2 separate regions of the Homo sapiens genome follow, and region 1 is linked to region 2. A link means that fine-mapping ties the variant in region 2 to the expression of a gene that starts in the linked region. Tissue or cell type: lung. Region 2 holds a variant in brackets; the other region holds the start of a gene. All regions are shown on one strand. Distances are from middle to middle.

Region 1 (2,674 bases), 58 kb before region 2:
CAGGAAGTTCCAGGCTGTAGAGCATAGTGATTGCACCTGTGAATAGCCACTGCACTCCAGCCTGGGCCACACAGTGACACCTCCCCTTAAAAAATAAAAAAGAATCCCCCACCCTACAAGCTCCCCTCCCCCTCCCTTCGCTGGCTCCCTCTCCCTGCTGGGCCTCTCTGTGGGATCTGCAGCATCTGACACATGAACTATTTATGTGTATTTTTATTCACTGCCTACTTCCCACAAGAATGCAAACTCCAACCAGACAGAGACATTCACAGCCGAATCCCAGTGCCCCATCTTACACCTGGCATACAGGTGTTCAAGACACAAGGACTAAGTGAGTAAGCAAGGTCCTCAGCCTCTTCAAGGGGTGCTGTGGGGCTCCTCCCCATTTTTTCACACAGACCCCTCCACCTGGGGACATCGTCGCCCCAGACCTGTTTCTCACTGGCCCTCGTCTGACTGCCTGCAAGAGTCACTCTGGGCCACCCTGGGGTCAGGCCACAGGGTGTCCGTTCAAGAGAAGGTGACCCTTCAGAGCGACAGGAAGTTCCAGTGGACGCCAGAAGACCTGTGTCCTGCTTTAGTGGTTCTGAAATCTTTCAAGGTGGCTTTGGAGCCTTGCTCTGCCACTTATAGGCTCTGAGACCCTGCAGGGTAACCGCACTCCCTGTGCATCAGTTTACTAACCTGTCCAATGGGAACAAATCCACCACCGACCTTACAGGGCGATTAAGATGGTTAAGGGGAGTGACCCAAGGGGCCAGGACTTGCCCACAGAAGGGCTTTCACCGTCTGATTCCACTGACAAAAATTTTGCCAGCTCTGCGGGAGTCCCCAGAGGGCCTTTTAAATGCGGTGGCCGCATCGCCTCCTAGCTTGTCTGCTGCCTGATCCTTTTTTTTTTTTTTTTTTTTTTTTTTTTGAGACGGAGTCTCACTCTGTTACCCAGGCTGGAGTGCAGTGGCGCGATCTCGGCTCACTGCAAGCTCCACCTCCCGAGTTTACACCATTCTCCTCCCTCAGCCTCCCGAGTAGCTGGGACTACAGGCGCCCGCCACCACGCCCGGCTAATTTTTTTTTTTGTATTTTTAGTAGAGATGGGGTTTCACCGTGTTAGCCGGGATGGTCTCGATCTCCTGACCTCGTGATCCGCCCGTCTCGGCCTCCCAAAGTGCTGGGATTACAGGCGTGATGCCTTATCCTTTTTAAATGAAAGCCTGGCCGCCCTCTCCCGGCGCCCGCCCTGTCCCAGTGCCCTCTGCTCGAGCCCCGTCCCGCGCCCTACCTCCCCCTGCACCTTTGCCCCGCACCCTCCTCCCTCCGCGTCCCGCGCCCGCCCGCTCCCCCGCTCCCCGCGCTCTCGCGCCCGCTCCGTGCCCGCTCGGCGCTCGCTCCGCGCTCGCTCGTTCGCTCGCTCGCTCGCGCTCCCCGGCGCCGGCTGCGGAGGGAGCTGCTCTGCCCGCAGCTGGCGCAGCGCGGGGGCGGCCGCGGGTGGGCGGGTGCCGCGGGCCCGGGCGCCGAGCATGAGCCGCCGCCGGCGCCGGCCGCGCGCTGCTCGGGGCCCGACTGCGGCGCGAGGGCGGCGCGGGAGCGACGCTGGCCCGGACCGAGGTAGGCAGCGGCCGCGGACCCTCAGTGCCTCGGGGCCCCCGCCCGCGCCTGGGGCCGTGCCCTCCGGTCGCCGGCGCGGGCAGGGCGCGGCGTGCGCGGGCCCGGGGTCCCTCCCGGCGCGGCCGTCGTGGGGCCGGGGCGCGGGCTCCGGGCGCGGGGCGGGGGACGCGCGCGGGGAGGGCGGCCGGGATCCCGGCGCGCGGAGTTGCTGAGAACTCCGCCCCGGGCTGGACGGCGCCAGGACCCCCTGCACCCTCCGCCCCTTCAGGGCACCTGGCGGGCCGGGCCGGGCCGGGCCGGGCGTGGCAGGAGCGCACGCGGCGGGCGGGCGTGGGCACTGCGGGCAGGTTCGCTGCCCGGGGCCTGGCGTGGGGGTGGGGGCTGGGGAATCGGAGGAGCTCAGGGCTGCGCAGTTGGAAGTTTCCATTTGCTCTTCTGCATTCTGGGCCCCGCCGTGGTATCTCACGCCCTTGCTGTTTGGCGAGGAATTGGGGCTTGAGCTCTGCATTTGGGGGAGAGGTCCAGGGCCATGCCAGGTGTCTCCCTCTCCCTGCTGGGCAAGGGTCATTTGAAGGACCACGCTCTCTTTGCCCCAGGCCTTGCCGGCCCCAGGAACGGGGCAGGTGCAGCTGGTTCTGGTCCGAGGGTCGGTGAGTGAGAGGTGGGGGCGGGAGTCCCCTGCTGTGTGTGGAGGGACGCGCTGGCAGGTTCCTGTGCCCTGCATTTCTGGCTGCCTCTGGGTGCTGGACCTGGTGGATATTTACAGAGAGGCCGCTGCCTGCCTCTTGGGAGCCACCTGGGGGCAGAGACCTGGTGGTGGCCGGGGCTCCCTCCCTCCCTGCTCAGAGCAGTGAGCTTCTCCCTGGTTCACCCTCCCCACCACTGCCACTCTTCTCCCACTGTCCTGCGCAGGAAGGGCCCCGATGGCCGTCGGCCGCAGGATCCTGAAACACAGGAGTCAGGCTGGGTGCAGGGGAGCCTCCCAGAGGCCTTGGTTCCCTCTGTCCCCCCAGGGTTCTCCCGCCCCCTCCGGATGCAGTCTTGCCAGCCCAGCCTGTCCACCTCG
Region 2 (2,674 bases):
CTCAACCTCCTGGGCTCAAGTGATCCTCCTGCCTCAGCTCCCCAAGTAGCTGGAACCACAGGCCTGTGCCACCACACCTGGCTAATTTTTTTTTGAATGTTAGTAGAGACAGGGGTCTCTATGTTACCCAGGCTTGTCTCCAACTCCTGAGTTCAAGCGATCCATCCACCTCGGCCTCTCAAAGTGCTGGGATTACAGGCATGAGCCTCCGTACCAGGCCCCTGCTCTGAGTTAGCCGGTGCAGCTTACCTGGAGGCTGAGGTTCTCACACAGGTGGGCTTCCCGGGCCTTCCATTCACCTGCACATGATTCACCTGGTGTCTTGCTCAGCAGCAGATGTGACCCAGCAGGCCTGGCCTGGAACTTGAGATCTGCTCTTTGACAATCGACAGGTCATGCTTTAGCTGCAGGTCCAGCGGCCACACTTGGAACTGAGAGGCTGTAGGGGAAGGGTCTAGAACGCCAGTGTGCAGCTGAGCTACCTGAAAGGGGAGCACTGGGCCCACTCCCACCAGTTTCTGGCTCAGGAGAAGGTACTGCTCCTGCTCTGGGGACCACACCTGGCCTTAGAGCATCCATGCAGGGTCTGGCTCTCTGGGGTCAGGGTGGCCTGCTCTGTCCAGGCCAGCCCCAGCTGGACTTGGGGTGGAGGTGATGGTTCCCACAAATGCTGGTTGAGCAAGCTGGCCCGCCACAGCCCTATCTCTGCCTAGCCCTGGTGGGGGGGCTTCCTGAGCTCTCCACAGTGCCCAAACACAAAGGGCCAGTGTGTCTAGAATAAGCAGTGCCTCCTGTGTGGTCTGTAGGGGTGCTGAGCAATCATGCTGGTGGGAATCAGCTCCTGGGGGTGAGGAGGCACCTGGTGCCCAGCACCTTACACAGGGGCTCCTCTGATCTTCCCTGCAAACCTCTGAAGTAGTGCTCCCTGTGCCCATTTTACAGACAAAGAAGTTAAGGCTCCAAGGGTTTGAGGATCTTGACATAGCCAAGACAGGTGGTGGAGCCAGGCTCGGACTTGGGCTCCCTGCCTACCCCTGCTGCTTGCTCGGCATGAATCCTGGCACTGTTGCCCTCTGGCTGTGACCTGGGGCAGGTACTCACCCCTCGTCTGCGTAAGGGAATAACGGGTTCTCTGGGAGCATAGGGGGTGACTGGGAAGAGTAACTGGGATTCTTCAACTGTAGCCTTGCGGTTTTCAGTGTTCAGCACCCTGGCCATCG[G/C]TGTATCATGATGGCTATTGCTGTGACTGGAGCCAAGAGCCCAGTGTGCAATTCTTCCTTGGGAAGGGGCTGCCTGGTGGTGGACACAGCTGTTCAGATACACAGGTTTGCAGCTGCCTGTCGAAGTGCCTGCCCCTGCTGTTGGGGCAAGGAGGAAGCAGGTGCAAGAACAAGCGACCTCAGGGCTGGGTGGGGGTGGCCGGCAGGGGACCCCGCAGTGGAAGTGCTGTCATCATCACCATTTCACAGCTGGGAAGGTGGAGGGCTGGCCAGATGCACCCAGGAACAAGGAGTGGGCCTGCTGCAGGGCCGGCATTCCTGCCCGGGAAAAGCCATGTAGGGAACCTGCCTCTCCACTTGGCACTGAGCCCTGGAGACCCTCCTCGAAGTGCTCCGTGGCTGGGCAGGGTGGGCCCTGCTAGGTTTGAGCTTTCGGGGGTAGGGGCTCATGGGGCATCCCCCAGACCTGCAGGGTCTTGGTTTGTTGGATGCAGGAGACCTAGCCCTGGGCCGTGTCCCCAGGTGGGTCTCCAGGTAGGCAGGACAGAAGGAACCCAGAGCACCCCACCTCTCAGGTCAGTGCGGCTCCACACGGTCCCCCTCAGGCTCTGCTGACTCCCCAAAGGGATTCTGAGCATGTGCAGAACCTCTGCTTGCCTGGGACACCCCTGCATGCTCCTCCTCCAGGCCCCCACCCTCGAAGGCGTGGCCTTCCCAGCCCCTCTCTGGCTGCTGACCAGTGGGCTGGGTCCCCAGGATGGCTCCTCAACTCCTAGGCAGGCCTCCTAGCACTGAGGCAGGTCTCTCTGCAGGCTGGACATGGAGTGGCCTTGCCCTGTGGGGGATCGGCTGGGGCTGAGTTTGTGGGGTGTCAGAGTGCATCCCCCACATACTACCTCCTGACCAGAGCAGCCTGCAGTGGGAGAGGCCAGTGGCTCGGCAAATGCCCTCTCTGATGACCCCAAGAGCTTGGGGTGAGGAGGCCCAACTGACCAAGGTTACCACCTGCTGGTCGCCTTTTGAACCCAGAACTGTGTGATCTTGGGGAGGTTGTCCCACAGTGCATTGGCCTCAGATGCCTGAGACAGTGCTGAGCAGCTGTGGGCAACAAGGGGTTTGTGAGCCCGCCTTCGTGACTTCATTGCACAAATGGTCACTGAGTGCCACCCTGGGCCAGCGATAGGATACACAGGTGAATGATACAGCCACTTCTGGCTTTGTGGGTCAACAGTCTAGGTTAAACCCAGGGAGGCTTCCTGGAGGTGGTGACACCTAGGCTGGACTTGGAACTCCTGGGGTTTCCTTAGTTGAGTTCCTTCCCACTGGGCCTCAGTTTCACCATCTGAAAAATGAAGGATTGGCTCACATCAGTGGTTCCTGGGCTGGAGTGGAGAGCGCGTTGGGGTACAGAAGCAGTCCACCCCAGAGTTTCTGACCAGCAGGTCTGGGGCTAG

Evidence for each region. PIP is the estimated chance that this variant, and not a neighbour inherited with it, causes the effect.
Region 1: it holds the start of RASGEF1A, and the variant in region 2 is fine-mapped to the expression of RASGEF1A in lung (TOPMed, PIP 0.98).

Annotation. Positions count from the first base shown.
Region 1 is chr10:43,265,779-43,268,452 of GRCh38, reverse strand. It overlaps RASGEF1A (RasGEF domain family member 1A), which reads left to right and starts at 1,388. Exons shown (of 13, transcript NM_145313.4): 1 at 1,388-1,608. RefSeq lists an enhancer at 1,883-2,674.
Region 2 is chr10:43,207,736-43,210,409 of GRCh38, reverse strand. The region is part of intron 1 of RASGEF1A (RasGEF domain family member 1A); the gene reads left to right. Among named protein-coding and RNA genes, the nearest start is that of RASGEF1A, 58 kb to the left of the region's middle. The variant G/C (reference allele first, on the strand shown) is at 1,221.